Homo sapiens: one gene and its partners. The protein of the gene in region 2 interacts with the protein of the main gene of each other region in a pairwise test. Each region holds a gene or a part of one and is shown on either strand. Other genes may lie near its edges.

What was found.
Region 1: the proteins of MAPK6 (region 2) and HAUS2 interact in a two-hybrid assay, tested with the Homo sapiens proteins (one large-scale study listed by BioGRID and IntAct).
Region 3: the proteins of MAPK6 (region 2) and PHACTR3 interact in a two-hybrid assay, tested with the Homo sapiens proteins (one large-scale study listed by BioGRID and IntAct).
Region 4: the proteins of MAPK6 (region 2) and CNTN1 interact in a two-hybrid assay, tested with the Homo sapiens proteins (one large-scale study listed by BioGRID and IntAct).

Annotation. Positions count from the first base shown.
Region 1 is NC_000015.10:42,568,166-42,571,342, forward strand, and holds the end of HAUS2 (HAUS augmin-like complex subunit 2), read left to right. Parts: 3' UTR 1-1,829; downstream 1,830-3,177.
Region 2 is NC_000015.10:52,063,352-52,068,703, reverse strand, and holds the end of MAPK6 (mitogen-activated protein kinase 6), read right to left. Parts: intron 4,803-5,352; coding exon 3,704-4,802; 3' UTR 1,329-3,703; downstream 1-1,328. UniProt on the Homo sapiens protein: Atypical MAPK protein. Phosphorylates microtubule-associated protein 2 (MAP2) and MAPKAPK5.
Region 3 is NC_000020.11:59,603,247-59,608,187, forward strand, and holds the start of PHACTR3 (phosphatase and actin regulator 3), read left to right. Parts: upstream 1-1,293; 5' UTR 1,294-1,768; coding exon 1,769-1,886; intron 1,887-1,985; exon of another isoform or gene 1,986-2,130; intron 2,131-4,941.
Region 4 is NC_000012.12:40,936,939-40,941,286, reverse strand, and holds part of CNTN1 (contactin-1 isoform 1 precursor), read right to left. Parts: intron 3,718-4,348; coding exon 3,600-3,717; intron 1,953-3,599; coding exon 1,802-1,952; intron 1-1,801. UniProt on the Homo sapiens protein: Contactins mediate cell surface interactions during nervous system development.

The DNA.
Region 1 (3,177 bases), 9.5 Mb from region 2:
GGTTTGTCCTCAGCTGTTGCATCTGGGAACTTAGATATCAGAAGGTATCTTAGTCTGTTCTGCTGTCATAACAGAATTACACAAACTAAGTATTTTATAATGAACAGAAGTTTATTTGGTTGACAGGTGTGGAGGCTAGGCAGTCCAAGAACATGGTGCCAGCATCTAGTGAGGGTCTTGCCATGGCAGAAGGCACCACATGGCAAGTGAGCATGAGAAAGATATATGGGTCTAAACTTAGCCTTTTATCATGAGCCCACTCCCAAGATAGCAGCACTAATTCATTAATGAGGGCAAAGCCCTCCTTACCTAATTACTTTTTAAAGGTCTCATAACACTTTTACAATGTCAATTAAATTTCCAACACTTGAACTTTGGGGGACATATTTAAACCTTAACAGGAGGGCTCCACTCACTGAAAAGAGTCGTTCATGGTAGCTAACCTGTGGTTTGTGCTGAAAACCTGCTTTCTTCCTGGGAGTCTAGAATTTTGGTACATGGTAGGTAGAAGGTACCTACGTGACCAGCCCCCAGTAAAAACCCTGGGCACTGTATCTCTAACAAGTTTCCCTGGTAAACAACATTTCTCACATGTTGTCACAATTCAGTTGCTGGTGGAATGAAACAACAGATATGTGTGACTCCACTGTTAGAGGACTCTGGAAGCTTATACCTGGTTTCCCCCAGACTTTGCCTCTGTACCTTTTCTCTTTGCTGTTTTGCTTCATATGCTTTTGCTGTAATAAATCATAGCTGTGTGATGATATGCTGAGTCTTGTGAATTCTCCTAGCAAATCATGGAACCTGGAGGTAGTCTTGGAGACCCTGGCATACAAAGCAGTTCCTAAGTGTTTACTGGTAGCTGTAGGAATAGGCAAAGAAGAAACAGCAAAGAAAAAGGCACACTGTGGTATAACTTTGGAGGTTTACCTTGCAAAATGCTCAGATATTTTACCTATCAGAGGTTATTGTGCATATAATAGAGAGTGATATACTAACAACTGCCTCAGGATATACTCTTTTTAATCAGTATTGTAACTAACCTTGGCTTATTTTACTTTTAGACTTGGGGTTCTATTTTGCTTTAAAACATGTACATCAGTTTTGTTTTTTGTTTTGTTCTTTTCTTTCCTTTTTTTTTTTTTTTTTTTAAAGACAGGATCTCACTCTGTCACCCAGGTTGCTGAGAGTGTGGTGTGGCCCAATCTTGACCTCACTGCAGCCTTGACCTCTCAGGCTCAAGTGATCCTCCCACCTCAGCCTCCCAAGTAGCTGGGACTATAGGCACGCGCCACCACGCCTGGCTAATTTTTGTATTTTCTGTAGAGACAGAGTTTTGCCATGTTGTTGAGGCTGGTCTTGAACTCCTGGGTTCAAACGACCCTCCCGCCTCAGCCTCCGAAAGTGCTGGGAGTACAGGTGTTAGCCACTGCGCCTGGCCTCATTGTACTCCTTAACACAAGAAGACTTCAACAATGATAAGTAGTTGTTTATAAGGAAGCAGGATCATTACCAAAATAAATCCTGCTAAAACAACAGGAATCATGTTTTAAAGCCTAGTTTGCTAATTTTTGCTAGTAGGATAAGAGTGATCGTAATATCTCGAACATTACATAGACACTTAAAACCTTTAGTTGTATTTCATCAAAAATCTGTTCATACCCCACGTTGGTTTCAAAACATACTATGCTTTTTCTTCGTGTTATTTCCTATATTCATTTTTGTGTGTATGTGTATGTCACAAATATTGATATGCCTGGTTGTTTATTTTTGTTTTCTATTATGCCTTTTTCAAAATATAAAAATAAACTTGTAATTTCTAACTAAAATTTTTTAGTCCTAGTCTGAATTTAAAGTGATAGAAAGGACTGATGCACTGTTTAACTTATACAGTATAGGCATATAGGCTCTCAGAATCAAAAGAGCTTGAGGTAAGTTAAGCCTGAGGTCTACTTCAAAGAGAAAGCTAATTTAATACTCTTCCAGAGTCAATCAGTGCTGATTAATTTTTCTTTAATTATTCAACTTTTAGATGTGTGGATATTAAAAAAAAATTAGCTCTGCATGCCTTTTTTTGTTGTTGTTGTTGTTCTTGTTTTTTAGATGGTCTTGCTCTCACCCAGGCTGGAGTGCAGTGGCACAATCATAGCCCACTGCACTCTGAACCTCCTGGGCTCAATGGATCCTTCCACCTCAGCCTCCCAAGTAGCTGGGACTACAACTGTGCCCCACCACACCCAGCTAACTTTTAAATTTTTTTGTTGAGATGAGGTCTCGTCGTGTTGCCCAGGCTGGTCTTGAACTCCTGGGTTCAAGCAATCTTGGCCTCCCAAAGTGCTGGGATTACAGGTGTTAGCCCCTTGCACCTAGCCTGAATGTCTGTGTTTCCTACTTACACTAGAAGAGGTGTGTGAGATTTGCAAATTTATTGCCAGCATAACAGTGATGCCAGTTTGTGAAGACCATTCTGGAGGAATTGAGATGCTGCCTGGTTTTCCTAGCATTTTTCTTATTTTCTTTCTTTCTCTATGTGACTCTACCAGTCTGACCCCTGATTTATCCTCTGAAACCCTCAATGAAGTCAGGAACAGTCTGAGGAATAGCAGAACCTAAAAGATTTCTTGACATGCAAAATCTATAATAGAGTTGAGATTTTAATAAGACTGTAATTAGTGTATTGTGGGATTTCTTCACATATCTGTAAAACACATGAATTTACATAAAAGATTTATCTCACAATTTGGGGAATCCACTAATTGAGTTTACTAAAAAAATTATGCATTAGACCCTTGAACAATATAAGCTTGAAGTGCATATGCAATTTTTTTTTTTTTTTTGAGACAGGGTCTCACTGTCACCAGGCTGGAGTGCAGTAGTGTCATCTCAGCTCACTGCAACCTCCGCCTCCTGGGTTTGAGCAATTCTCCTGCCTCGGCCTCCCAAGTAGCTGGGATTACAGGTGCACACCACCATGCCCGGCTAATTTTTGTATTTTTAGTAGAGACAGGGTTTCACCATGTTGGCCAGGATGGTCTCGATCTTTTGACCTCGTGATCCACCCACCTCGGCCTCCCAAAATGCTGGGATTACAGGAGTGAGCCACAGTGCCCAGCCACAATTTTTTTTTCAATAAATATATTGGAAATTTGGAGCTTTGTGACAACTTGAAAAATTCAC
Region 2 (5,352 bases):
CTAACTAAATGTGCTCTATATAAAACACACCAAAGTATCAAATGGAAAACAGTGCTTGCAAATAATTTCATAACCAATACTATGCAGGTGTCTTAACTGAGAAGCAAAGGTGATGTTTGCTTGGATTTTATTTGAAAACCCGATTTGATTCATGATCTACTTCTCCTTAGGTATGGACCCCAGTGTAATGACATAATTGGCTCAGCCTTTAAGATTTAAAGCCTCTGTTCCCAAGCTGCAGTGGCTGGAGCAATAGGAAATGAGAAACAAGGCAATCTCACATTGAAGTGGCTACTTAAGGATCCCTAAGGTGTAGTCATGATTTCCAGCCATGCAGTTGTTTGGAATTAGAAATCCTGATTCCTACTGTAAACTGAACATTGCAAAGCTGGTAGGATTAATTCAATGGAAGAAACTTGGTTTCTTGCTTGGAGGCATGTGGATGAATAAGAACTCTTGTGCATTGCTGGCAGGAATGTGAGTCAGTACAATCACTTTTGGACAGGGACATGGCATCTTCATAGACTTGAAGATATGTAGCAACTCTACTCCTATGTATCTGCCCTAAAGACACTCTTACACATGTTCACAAGAATTCTCACTGCAAAGATGTTGGTAGAAGCAAAATTTTGGAAGATGTCATTTAAGAAATACGTTGTGGTGTAGCAATTAAAACTAAAGCTATCAGGCAAATGATAAAATAGAGCAGGGGTGGCCATACTCATGTCAGAAAAAAATGCTTTACCGCCAGGCACAATGGCTCACACCTGTAATTCCAGCACATTGGGAGGCTGAGGAAGATTGCTTGAGCCCAGGGGTTCAAGACCAGCCTGGGTGACATGGGGGAGACCCTGTCTCTATAAACAAATTTTAAAAGTACTATAAAAAATGTAAAAACTAGCTGGGCATGTTGATTCATGCCTGTGGCTCCAGCTACTCAGGAGGCTGAGGCAGGATTGCCTGAGCCTGGGAAGTCAAGGTTGCAGTGAGCTATGATCATGTCACTGTACTGCAGCCTGGGCCAGAGAGTAAGACCCTGTCTCAAAGGAAAAAAACAGTCAAAAACTGTGACAAGAGACAGAGTAGAGAACCCAGAAATAAATTCTCATCTATATGGTCAAATGATCTTTAACAAAGGTGCCAGCTACTCCTAGGTACTCAAGAGGTTGAGGTGGGAGGATCACTTGAGCCTAGGTTCAAGGTTGCAGTGAGCTGTGATCACACCACTGCACTTCAGCCTGGGTGGCAGAGAAAGAAAGACTTTGCCTCTTGGAGTATTTCATCTTCATTACCCTATAAAGATACTTTGATTGCAAGTGGAGACAAAGTAATTGGCACATAAAATTTTTATTGGAAATTGACTTTACAACTTAGTACTCAGCCTGGGTCACCCTAAAGCAAGCATATTTTATATAAGGGGTTTCAGTTTTACTTTCTTCTTCCTTTGATGACTATGTTTGGACTTTTTAATGCCAACAAGTCAGATCATTGTGTAGATGGCCACTAAACTGCCAAGGTGACAGTTTAACGAATGTGGATTAAGTCCAGGAGCCAAGTTTCCCAGTAAGAAAAATCCTAGGTCTCCTTCAGGGAAGACAGCATTTTAGAGTCAAAGCTAATTATTCTCAAAATCAACATACGTTTGCAAAAAATTGGTTATAATGGAGGATCAGGGACCAATGTCTGCTGCCCGTTGCTTCCTTTACATCCTGTCTGATGCTCTCATGACACTCAAAGCCTCTGCACTTGTCACCCCACCCAGCTCCAACTAAAAGTGTCCCATTTTTTTTTTCCCCACAAATCAATTCTCATGACTGCACTTCAGAGCTTGTCCTCTTAAGGTAATTTGAGTATGTTTAAATTAATAACGTGACAGTATTCAACCAGAAAATAAATAAATGAATATATATACACACACACACACACACACACACACACACGTGTATATATATGGCTTTGTGAATCCAGATGAAGTCAGTTGTTGAGAAGGTAGGTGGGCAGATATTAATAGAATTGGTGTTGTACAAAACAAGGATGAAAGAAAAGTGAGGTGAAGAGGATGGAGTTGTTGAGAAGGTAGGTGGGCAGATATTAATAGAATTGGTGTTGTACAAAACAAGGATGAAAGAAAAGTGAGGTGAAGAGGATGGTTTTGTAGCTGGATAGGTAAAAGGGTAAGTTCTTACGCAAAGATGTATTACAGAGCAAATCTCAAGTTTTCTGACTGCACAGTTCAAAGTTTCAACTACACATTTTACCTAACAGTTTTGAAATATTATAAAGCTTTATTCCATTCTAATATGTGATGGTTTAAGTCAAAAGACTTGAACCTTCTCAGCCTTTCAGACTAGCAATTTATGGCCATAATTCAAAGTGATTCTGGTAGTAATTTTCATTCTAGCAGAAAATTTTCATTAACCCAAGAGTGAAACAGGAGCTGTATTTGCTGGCCATGTTTTATTTGTCCTTTTTCTTCAAACAGGATAACCAAAGATACAGACAGTATTCAATAAAATAAAATAGATGAAACAAATTCTAAGAGACTGCGATGCCACATGCTACGTTTAACCTAATTTTATTCATGCTTGCCTTGGGATGGGGAATAGATCATTCAGTAAAAACATACAGTAAAAACAAAATGTCTTATCATGTACAACTTTCAAACTACAATAATGATGTACCTTAATTACTTCCATGCACACAAGTCTAACATTTGTTTTTTTAAAAAATAAACACAATTAAGACTTCTAGGAGCATTTTATAATAAAGTAATTCCTAATTAATTTTTCTTTGTAGATAGATCAAGCACCTCCAAAATACAAATTCCTATACACAGTGAGCACGTTACTTAAAATGAACACTTAAGTAAATTAAGTACGTGGACAGCCTTAGGATAAGCTGACATTATAGATGCAGCTAGGTAGGCAACAAACCATAGTGCCAAATGGAAAAAGTAAAGTATATTTGCAAATAAATTTTAAAAACTAAGTTAATTTTTTATAATTAAATACAGAAAATATACTGATTTGCTAAAATAAATAAGATGTGATGTATTAACACTTCACTATAAAGAATGCATACCAGAACATTTATAAACAGTGAGTGAGTTTTATTAAGAATAGTTTACTACAATAAACGCTGGCTAAATAGAAGTGCATTTTGTGAAGCACTATGGGTGGTATATGTTTTGCCACATACTCTTGTTACCTTGAGGTAGATAACACATGTGTACCAAATTCGGCATTCATTTTCAGTTGCTGCTGGTATCATGTGTTTTAAGAAATGTGTACAGTATGAAAAACTTGAAAATATTCATGAATGAAAAATGTCTTAGGAAAAAAATAGCTATTTTCATGCAATTATGTACAGTCTCACTGTGTAAATTTCAAGGCAAGGTTTGTTTCCTGTAAAACAGATCAATGTTCTATGAGAGAATGTTCTTGTCTTAGTGCATTTCTTTTCTCCTCCTGCGTTGCATTATTTTGCTCTAGTCTTTATTTTTGTGTGCAAATGACATGCCAGTTAAAATGAAAACTATCTCACATGTAGAAAAAGAAAGTCTGGATTTTAAAAAACAAGAACTCATAAAATCCTTACTAAATGACACCATCTGATTCAAGTAAAAAATGACTTAAACACTAGTAATAAAAAAAGACAAAACACATTTCATGAAGAATACAAAGATAAATGTCTGCTGAGTGTTTTAGTTCAGATGTTTCAGAATGCTGCTGTATGTTTGATGAGGAATTTGAGGGGAAGATTTCATAGCAGAAGGTGTTAATGTGGCCTGTATTGACTTAAGTGGTGACCCAACTGGACTGTGAAACTGTGGGATGCCTATGGACTCGAGCTGCTTGTTAAAGAGGAACTCCCCACTGTTGTTCAGAAATCCTTCCTCATGTCCTCTCTCCCCAAGCTTCCCATCCTCTACTGGCTCAGTTTCTAGCATTTCAGTATCTTCTTTCCTGCTAAAGAACTTGTCCAAGTAACTAGTGTAAGTGTTTTCCTTCTCAACTTGTTCATCCTTCCTTACCTCACAAAACTGATTTATGAAAAAACAGTCCTCCCCACCACTCACAAACTGGCTGTCCCAAGAAGACTGGTACAAGGCTTCTAATTGAGCCAGATTTGCCATTCCTTTTTCCTGTTTTTCTTGGCTTACTGACTTTGATATCAAACTTTTCAATTCTAGTTGGGACACTGAGCTATTCAAGTCATTTAATTTATCAACAACATCAGTAGGCTCATGCTGGGAACTAAGCTGAATAGTTCCTGCAATAAAGGAATCAAAATCAAATCCCTGATTCTTTTCCCTTTCTTTTCCAGCCAGTTGCTGTGATGCTTCCTCTAGCGCTATCTGGGCTTTAACCAATCCATTCCTTTCACATTTTGATTTGCCTTTCTTATCAGATTTTTCTTTGCTTTGTTCTTTCCAATTGGAAAGATCTATAATAAGCTTGGGTTCATAGTAATGGTTAACTTCACTCTCTCTCCAAACTAAGTTATCTAAATATGATGATGACCTCGTTTTGTAGTTACAAGTATGGCTACACTCCAGATCACAATATTTGTTTTCATGATGATCTGAGTATTGCCAACAAGGCTCAGTAGAGTAATTGGTATCAAAAGCAGGATCCTCCAGATACTTTTCCCGATCTCCATCCAAATATTTTCGGGGATCAACTTGTACTTCTTCTTCATCAGTGACATCGGACAGAGCTCTTGGATCAAGCTGAACTTCATCAATATCAAAGTTGTTATGTACAGGCCAATCATGCTCTGAAAACTGACAATCATGATACCTGAAAAAAATCAATACACTAGCGTTATTCTACGTATATGATTTCATTTTCAAATTCACCGAGTACCTTCTATGTGACAGCACTGTGCTAGGTCTATGAGGGGATAATTATAGGAGAGTAAATATGCCTGCCTTGCCCTACCAGAACTTAGTCTTGATAGGAAAGCTCTGTTAATATATTTGGTAATTGCCAATGCAGTATGTAACTTCATTTCCAATTTGTTTTTTGTCCACCAGTTCCATGCAAACAAAAGACTTCATAGCCACAAAATGCAGATCTCAAATCTCAATCAGGTACCTTACAAATGTTTACTCTACAGTAAGGGCAACTAGAAGAGGAGGAGGTTTGCTAAATGTTTACTCTACAGTAAGGGCAACTAGAAGAGGAGGAGGTTTGCTGGAAAACTCATCACCATGAATAGCAAAAATCTCCCTGTGTATACGTGCTGCTGAATGCGCTATCCTATTACTGACATGTATAATCATTGAGGGAAAAGAAAAGAGATTAGATAACTTAGCTAGGTAAAATAGAAAATGCAGGTCAGGTGCAG
Region 3 (4,941 bases), on a different chromosome or scaffold from region 2:
GGAAGACTCAAGGAGTTGGGGCGTCTCTGTGTTTGTGCACTGCTAGGTCCCTAATGCCTGGTGTGGTGCCTGGCACACACTCGACTCTGCACACAGTCTGAATGAATGAATGAGTCCTTTCTTTAGAGGTGACTGATGCTGCTGAAATAACTGCTGCTAAGAGCCCAAAGCTCTGTGTGGAGTGAACATCCACTTTATTCCCCCTCCCCACCACCACCCCGCTCAGTTCTGTCCTTGGCGCTTAACCGGGATTTCGTCCACACTGCCAGCGCTCACACTGCACTCCCAGGCCCTGCTGTAGGTGCTAATCTGATGGGGGCAGCCTTAGGGAGGGCTCTGTCCCCAGCAGGAGGACCCTTGGTGAGCGACTCTCCCCGCTTGCCCCCACCCCTTCCAGCACCTGCAAAGGGGGCTTAGAGCGGGGCTGCCCCATGGGGTTGAGAAATTGAAATGGGGGTGTCCTCCCCCAGGTGTCTCTGTGGTCCTTGAATCCTGGTGTCTGTTGAAATGCCTCCTCCTCTGGGCACCTTCCAGGACCAGGCCAGGTGACACCACCATTCCACCCCCGTCTCTACCCCTTTCCTGGACTTTCTTCCTTCCCTGCCCTGGCTGGGGAAGCAGCGGCTGCCTGCCTGTGTTCACCCCACACCACCGCTGGGGTTGTGAGAATCGCTCCTTAGCACCCTGGAGGACACCTCTGTGAGTGGCAGCCCTGGGGGGTGTCGCCTCCCTTGCCTGGCCCCTCAGGTTCCTAAGGGCGTCTGAGGAAAAGCCTCATTGGAAAGCGCCCGTGCCCTCCTCCCTCTCCCCCGCCCCCCCGCCCCCCGGCAGGGAGGAGGGTTCGGAGCGAGGGTTCGGAGGGTCCGGGGTGCCCTAGCAGGCCCAGGCCAGGTGGTTGCGGGGAGGAAGCCTCAGGTCGCTCCCCTCCGGTGCCGGGGTGGGCGCGTCGGGACCCACTGGCCTCCCAGTCCCAGGAGAGGAAGGACCAGGGAAACCAGCTGTCTGCAGCTGCTGGGGAAATTAGGGGCTCTCAGGGTTCCCTTTCCTCCGGGAGGGGAGGAAACGGGACTAGGAAGCTTTCCTGTTTCTAGAGCACGGCTTGGTGGGGTGGGCGGCTCCTAACCCGGGGTCCAGCCCCTCCTCCCCCACCCCGGCGCGCGGTCCAGGTATGTGCGACCCCTCCCAGTGGCCACGCGCCTTCTCACGCCCCTCTCCCGTGACGTCATGCTCCTCTCGCGCGGCATGATGGGAGAATCCTAATGTTTTCCAACAGATGCTCCAAGAACAGCTTTCAGATTAAAGCAATTGCAAGAGCAAAGATTCTTCCTTTTCCCTTTTTTCCTGGGGGGGTGGGGGGTGGGGTGGGGGGAGGGAGCGCCCCCAGACATTCCAGGACATCACCCCCTGCCCCAAGCACGCAATAAACACTGACAAGAAAAAGTTTTTATTTCCTGGTTCAACTTTTTTTTTTTTCCCTGGAATATAGACTGAAGAATGGGAATAAACACGAATAAATAACAAAGCGAGGCCGCGCACGCCGGGATGCGCCTGGCTGCAGCCGGCGAGGCTATTGTCTCCCCGCCCTGAAGCCAGCCCCGGCGTCTTTCTCCAGCTCGTTTCCTTTCCCGGCCTTTTTTTTTTTTTTTTTTTTTTAATTTTCTTTTTTAAAAAGACGCCCCCTCCAGCCCCCTCGCCGGTGACCTTGGCCGCCTCGGATGCTCTGATTCCACGCGGCTCGCTCTAACTTGCCCCCGCGCCGGCCGGGCCCATGGCCGCGTCGGAGGACGGGAGCGGCTGCCTCGTGTCGCGGGGCCGCTCGCAGAGTGACCCCAGCGTCCTCACCGACTCCTCGGCCACCTCCTCCGCGGACGCCGGGGAGAACCCAGGTAACGGGCTGGGCGGGGGCGGCGGGCGGGTCGGGGAGGCCCGAGGCAGGTGGCGCTGAGAGCAGGACCCCGCGAGGCTCCGCGCCCCGCCTGCATTCGGGGAGCCGCGGCAGGAACCCGCGCTCGGCCCCGCGGTTCCTATCCCCAGTCTCGCAGGGCTGGGGCGCCTCGGAGCCCTTTGTCCATAAAAGAGCTGATTTCCTGGGTAGAGCCGGGCGCTGCAGCTTCCCCTCCTCTCCGGCTGGTGAGCTCTGCCGTCCCCTCGAAGGAGGCTTCCTTTCCTCGGGTGCTGACCGGCTGGGGGAAGAGAGGCAGACCCGTGGCCGCCTCCGCCCAGCGCCGGTTCTGGGCCATTCCCTCCCTCCCCACTGCCGGGCCCCAGCTCCGGACGTCCCCGCTTGGGCATCTGCTCCTGGAAGGCAGCGCTCCGCAGCTGAGGCCACCGCGCTGAGGGCTTCCACCAGGCGCCTGACTCCAGCGGGGCCTGGCGCACCTGGGCGCGCTAGCCCCCGGACAGGTGTGCTGGGCAGAGCCGCCGGCAGGGAGACGAAGGGCGTGCGCCAGGACAGAGCCCGGTTTCGTGACAGCGTGTGGACTCCGTCCACTCTTCCACCCCCATGGCAGCGTTGATTGTTTAGGTGATAAACCGGTCACAAAGGCGTCTATAGGGCTTGATTGATTACTTTCCAGAGAGGAAGAAAGGCCTAATAAAGCGGGGGGGGAGGTGGGGGGGGGGGTGGGCTGTGTGCGCCTGTCACCATGGAGACGCAGGAAGCAAAGTGATCATTAAAACCTCTCTCCACCAGAAGGCAATTTTCACTTCACAGGGAGAAGTCTGGGCTTCTGAAATGTAGGGTTCAAAAAAAGAATCAAAGCTGGTGTTTTGGTATCAAGCCACAGGACTCAGTTTTGTATCTTAGAGAAGCACAATTCCTTCGTAGATTCTGTTTTGATAACAAGTTGCTTCGCCTGCCTTTGAAGACTTATTCTCTCTAAATGCAACGACCCCAGATGGGGACTTGATGATGTTAAATGGTGGGCATCAGAATCCCTGGGGCCCGGGTGAAGGCTGGCTTTGTGGGGAGGGATTCCTGCACTGGAACACACCAGAGCTTCCCGATAAACTGCCTAGAGGACTCATTACAGGCAGCTGTGTGGGCACTGGATCCCTCCCCCCCCCATTTGAAAATTTAAACAATAAACCCGGGCAAGTATTGGAAGATTTCTTTGTTAAGACTATTGACACTGTGTCACTTGGTCAAACTAAGGTACCGGCCTGAATAAATCTCTGACTTTTCTTTATCTGGGAGGGCAGGTTAATTTCCTTAGAGTTTCAAGCAGAGGCTGCCATGGCCGACCCTTAAGGTTTTAATTAATCCTTTTACTAGGAATGGGGGATTCAGCCTTCAGCACTCCATGATGGATTGCCTTTCTCTGGGTTGGAGAGGCGCATCCACAACTGTTCCAATCATGGAAGTTGAGTGGCTTCTCATGAGAATCCTTCTAAGCTCCCTTTGTCTCCCTGGCAGTAAGAGGAAGCAAACTTGAAATGGAAATTATGGAGGACTTGGCTTTTTGGCTGTATGTGAGTTTATGCCTCTGTGGGTGGGAGCGGAGGGTTGGGCAGGTGGTGCCGGTCCATGAGAGAAGGAGGAGGAAGGGCTGGGATGCCTGTGATTAAGTTATGCGTGGGAGGGCACAGGCTTGAGCTCTCCTCTGGTGCAACTGGTCTAAATGGGACCCAGAGAACAGGTGTCAGAGGTGAAAAGTCTAAAATATGTGCAATTCTGTGAGCAGTAGAACCTTACTAAAAAGCACCAAGCAATTAAGTATTTATGGATTGTGTGAAGCAGATTGTGTTTCTGTTCTGGCAGAAAGAGAATCAGAATCATCAAGTTGGAGGGAACTTGGGAACTTGATGGAGGAAGGGCGGGCTCAGGGAGTATTTTCTGTAAGCACCTTGCCTGGCTGGCCTGGTGTGTGCCTGCATACTTCTTTTGATGGTGGACTCAGTTCTTCCTGATGTAGTGCATACTTGTCTTTGGGCAGATCTGTTTAAGAATTCTTTTTCCAATGGTTCCAAAGGGTCTGGTACCCATCAGTCCTGATGGGATCTTCTCCTGCTGGGTGTTACTCAGGGCTTTCAGAGAGCCTGGGGTTTTAGGTATTGAAACAACCTCAGTCACTTCTTGGAAAGTCTAGGCCCTTCACCTGCTCTTCCTAGATAGCCTCCCTTATTTGTCCACCTGCTGCTCTAATGTGAGACTCCTGAAAATTGAACCTGAAGCTCCAGCTGTGGAATAACCTCACACAGAGTTAAGAAGCAGAGCTGTCTCCTCCCATCTAAATTCTATAATTTAATGAAAGAGTCCAAGGTTGCGTTCACCCTTTCCCCTGCAAAGGCATTTTTAATGCATCAGTATTTGCAAAGACTCAAAGCATTCTTCAAAAGGTGAGCTATGTTTTGACACCTCTTTCTCCCATTTTCCAGAGGTTACCCCTGCTGGGAATTGAGGGGCATCCTTTGGACTTTTCCTAATGTTTTATATACTTGTGTTGCTTGGAAAATGGCATATGGGAATGTGCTGGACTCATGGCTCTTCCATGAGTGGTTCTGCTCCACACTGGGTCTCGGAGATCTTGCCTCATTGCAATATCCATCTCCCTTTCCCTTTTAACACCCACACAGGATGCCAAGAAACAATTTTTCAGTTTAGCCATTGGATATTTGTATTGTTTCCAGTTTTTACCCACTACAGACAACACAGCTGTAATTACCTGGGCACAAACTGCCTTGTACTCACCTGAGAATTTCCTCTAGGGTGGGTGTGTGCCAGCTCTTGGGATGTTGAGGCCACAGGGGACCCACATATTTTATTTTAATGATATTGCACTCTCCTAGAAAATGTACGAATTCACACTTTCCGTAATCTATGAGAGTGCCCTTTCTCCAAACCCTTGCCAACACCTGAGATCATCAATCTATTTTTCTCTAGCATGAAGGGTGACAAATGGTTTCTTGTTGTGTTAATTTGCAGTTCCCTGATTGCTAGTG
Region 4 (4,348 bases), on a different chromosome or scaffold from region 2:
ACTATATCTACTATTAAATAGTATTTACACTGAGATAGTAATGGGTTAAAGTACTAAGTAAAAATTAGATTTATAGACTCTTTAATCAAGGAAATAATGCAATTTGATTTCAAAGGCTTTAAAAATATCAGAACACAATCAAACTTGTAAAATTTCAGGAGCTAGATCTTTCTCTTCTTTTTTTGAACACATATTGATATTTAGGAAAAACAAGTCCATGAAACATAGTTCTGGGAAATCCTTGGTTGAAGAGGTCCATGACATGGGTCTTCATCAGAATCAGAAAAAGATTTTATTATCACGGAAGAGAACTAATGGTTTGTCCATTGGGGAATGCCCTGCTCTAGGCTGTGGAAGGAGTAAGCACCTACACATGTAGCTGCCCTTTGATCATGGTCTCTGCATTGCTCATTGTCTGACCATTAATGTTTCAGCGGCAAATTGAACAAATGGACTTTTCCTTTAACCCTTCTTGTAGTATCATTTTGTTAAAATCTTAACAACCCTGAGGTCAAACATATTAACTTTAAAAGTCAGTGTGTTCAGGGAAGCCCCTGATGTCCCTGCCCTCTTGCCCCATTCCATAAACAGCCGTGCCTGTGCTCATCCTAATAAGAGGGCTGTGCTGGCATATTCTCAATTTATATCAATGTCTTACAACTTCAAGTTCTAGTTTAGATAGCATGAATATATTTTTGCAGAAGGTCACTTTAACTTTACCAAGCTTTAGACACATCAAAATATGGATGATAATTCCCATGTTACTTTATTGGGTTACTGTGAAGAAAATAATGTATTTTCTACATCTGAGTAATAACAGTCTTTCAAATGACAAAAGTGATCCTTGTCCTCCCTTGTTTAAGACTTTAAACAGATTTATATTACTCTTAGATGAAGCCCAAGCCCCTTAGCATAGAAAACTTTGTCATTTATGATGTGGCTTACTATGTCTCATCTCTTAAAAGTCTCCTCCATTTTCCTCTAAAGACAAATCACACTGATTTCAGTTTCTGCAATTTCTTACACATTCTAAACTCCTCACCATAGGGCCTTTGTACATGCTGCCCTCACATTCACATACACCCTCACATACACCCTCACATACACCCTCAAGCCAACCCACACATCCCATCCCTCCCATTTCCCATCCTGGCTTTCTCCTCGTCATAATTTTTGCACTCAATATTACTTCTTCTAGGATACATATAAACTATTCAGTGTGGCTTTTATACAAATAATCTATATAAGTTGTACACTGCTTTTTCATTTTGTCCCCAAACCACCAAAACATTGGTAGATGGTCCATTTATAAGGAAGATGATGATAACATCTTGTTCATTTTGAGATAGGAAGAGATTATTTGCACTTTGAAATCACCTTTTTATTTTTCTACAAAAATATTTAATAGGCTAACTGCACAAAATTCAGTTGAATATGAATGGATATAGATGCCAGATGCCTATACTGGGGAAAAATATGTTAGAGAGATCCTACTTTATTTCCCATTGTTTATTAGCTGTGTGACATTGGGCAATTTATAACAACAAGACAACAAAAAAACACCTCTGAGCTTCAATTTTCTAAATTCCTTATACATTATAGAGTCCTGTTAATTAAACCTTCATTATAATAGATACTGACAGGGATAGGTATTTCTGTCCATCTTAGAACTACAGGATCTTCTGTGAAAAAAAAAATTCAGAGCAAAAAACATTTTCATTATTAACATATAAACAAGTCTTCTATAAAATAAACTTTTTCAAACAGATTTTGCAATTGGATTTCTAGTTTCAGCACTGACCTGCTGCTATTGACAAGCCACTCTGTCCCTTTACTCCATGAAAACTTTGGTTTCGGTGCAGCTTTAGGTTTGCATTCAATTATCACCCTTCCACCTTTAGCAGCCAGGATCTTTTTCTTCATAGGATTCATTTCAAAAGTTGGAGCCAACGCTAAAAAGAAAACAAATTGTTATCTTTCTCTTTCTGTTTGTAAAGCCTAAACATTGCTTCTGTGTTGTAGAATCTTTTATTCTCCTTAATAGTTAATGGAAAGGATTAATCTCGGTAAATATGATCAGCTGTCACCAATAGGCATTCTATACCTAATGCTTTGTAACTTTTATTTAATAACTTTGACTTATAAAATTCACCCAATTCAAATGTACAATTCTTGATGATAACTGAATTGATTATTAGAAACTTTAATTAGAATCCAGGCATGGGTGGCTCACACCTATAATCCCAGCAGTTTCAGAGGCTGAGGTGGGCAGATGGCTTACCCAGGAGTTTGAGAGCAGACTGGGTAACACGGCAAAACTCCATCTCTACCTAAAATACAAAAAAATTAGCTGGGCATGTTGGTGCATGCCTGTAGTCCCAGCTATCCAGGAGGCTGAGGTGGAGGATCACCTGAACCTAGAAGGTCAAGGCTGCAGTGAAGCGTGATCGCCTCACTGCACTCCAGGCTGGGCAACACCGTGAGACCCTGTCTCAATAAATAAATAACTTCAATTTCAATCAAATGTTTTATACACATTTACCTTAAAATTAACTCTGAATTCTGTTGCTTTGACTCAATTCCACAAGGAAAGTAAAGTGAAAGGCTGGAAAAAATTGACCAGCATTATACACACTGACATATGGTCCTAGTCAATCCTCTAAACCACATGTTGAATGAACTATTCCCAGTTTATAAATGAGAAAATTGAAATCTATTAGGATTATTTAATTTGGCAAAGGTACCACAGGTAGTAATAAGTGGGAGTCACATTTGAATCTAGGTCCTTCTGTTTCCAAAGCATGTACTTTTCATTAAACAATGCAGTCTCTCCTTCTTTATACAATTACTGAGCATCATCTGTATGCAAACACCCTGCAAAATGCCAAAATAATTGGAGTCCTGCTTTCAGGATCTATCTATAAACAGCTATGGGAATAATGGATCTAATCAACTAATTAAGGAGACATGATCATTTGTAGTTCATCATTACCTCCAAGTACAGAGCAATAATTATTAGAACAGAATACAGAGGCTTAAAAAAGGTTACTTCATTGATGTCATGCTCAGACTTTCCTCAGCATCCACACATTTAATCCACTGCTCACTCTCCTCTTCCCTTGGCAGACTCCAAGCAGATTTCATCCATATATTTCAACACATTACAATCATCCGTAACTATGTACTTTCTGGAGGCTTTTCTAGGCCTAAGCATATCTTCATCTGGGTTTTGACTCTTCATCCTCTGGTCTGGTCATTCTCAAAATTATCTTTGTATTAAAATCATCTGGGTATCTTTTTAAAGTGTCCATTCAGTAGGTCTGGGGTGAGCCTGGGATTCTGCACTTCTAATGTGCTCCTAGGTATGGCCACTGCTGCTGATGCTCTGAAGAAGACTTTTGTTGTGGCAAAGATTCATTCTATTCCATTGTTTCGTTAGTCTGAATTATGATAATTAGCAATAAATAAATCAGTAAACAACCAACATATGTTGTACACCTAACACAATACTGGGTATTTTGTGTAGGCTCAATAAACATTTTGTGTGATATGACATATTGCTTTAACAATGTTTAACAGAAATTAGAAATGATACTGACCCAAGATCTTCAACTCAGCATTTGCATAAATGGCTCCATATGTGTTTTCAGCTATGCACTGATACATTCCGGCATTTTCAAAAGTCACATCATACAGTCTTAATTCCCCTTTATGATACTGAAAAGAATAAAATTGAAACATATTCTCAATGAACTTTAATAGAAATACTTTCACTTAGGTCTGGGTTTGGTTGTCTTTTCATTTAGATACATTATGTTCATCTGCCCCCACTGTTACCTAAGATGAACTGAGTGGGATTTTCATGGCATGGGAAAGGAAAACCCACTTACCATGCCCAAAGGCTCTTGTTCTATTCATCCTACAGAGCTGAGAGTCCACCTTTTCCCCTCTTGGACCAGCTGGGAGATTACAGTGGGAAGGTAGAGAAGAATCCCACTGCTGCTACTTGTCCCCAGGGCCAAAGGTAGGACTTAGAGCTTCACTCTTACCTCTGTCTCTGTGGGGTACAGGAAAATAGTGGCAAGAAAAAGAGGACAATATCAGGTATTGGAGATGGATGAGTAGGAAGAGGGTGGAAAAGTGGAACAAAGGAAAAAAATAAGGAGAGAGAGAGAGAGAAGGTAGAGTAAGATTACAGAAAGTTGTTTAAACTGAAAGAAGATACTTTATGTTCAGTTTTTGTCTTTTTTAGGAAGCTTTTATATTTCAGGGCCCAAGTGCCCTTTCTGTATTGTCTCTCCTGCTAAATTTATCCCAGGACTACCCTGAAACACTGCTTGAACAGGGA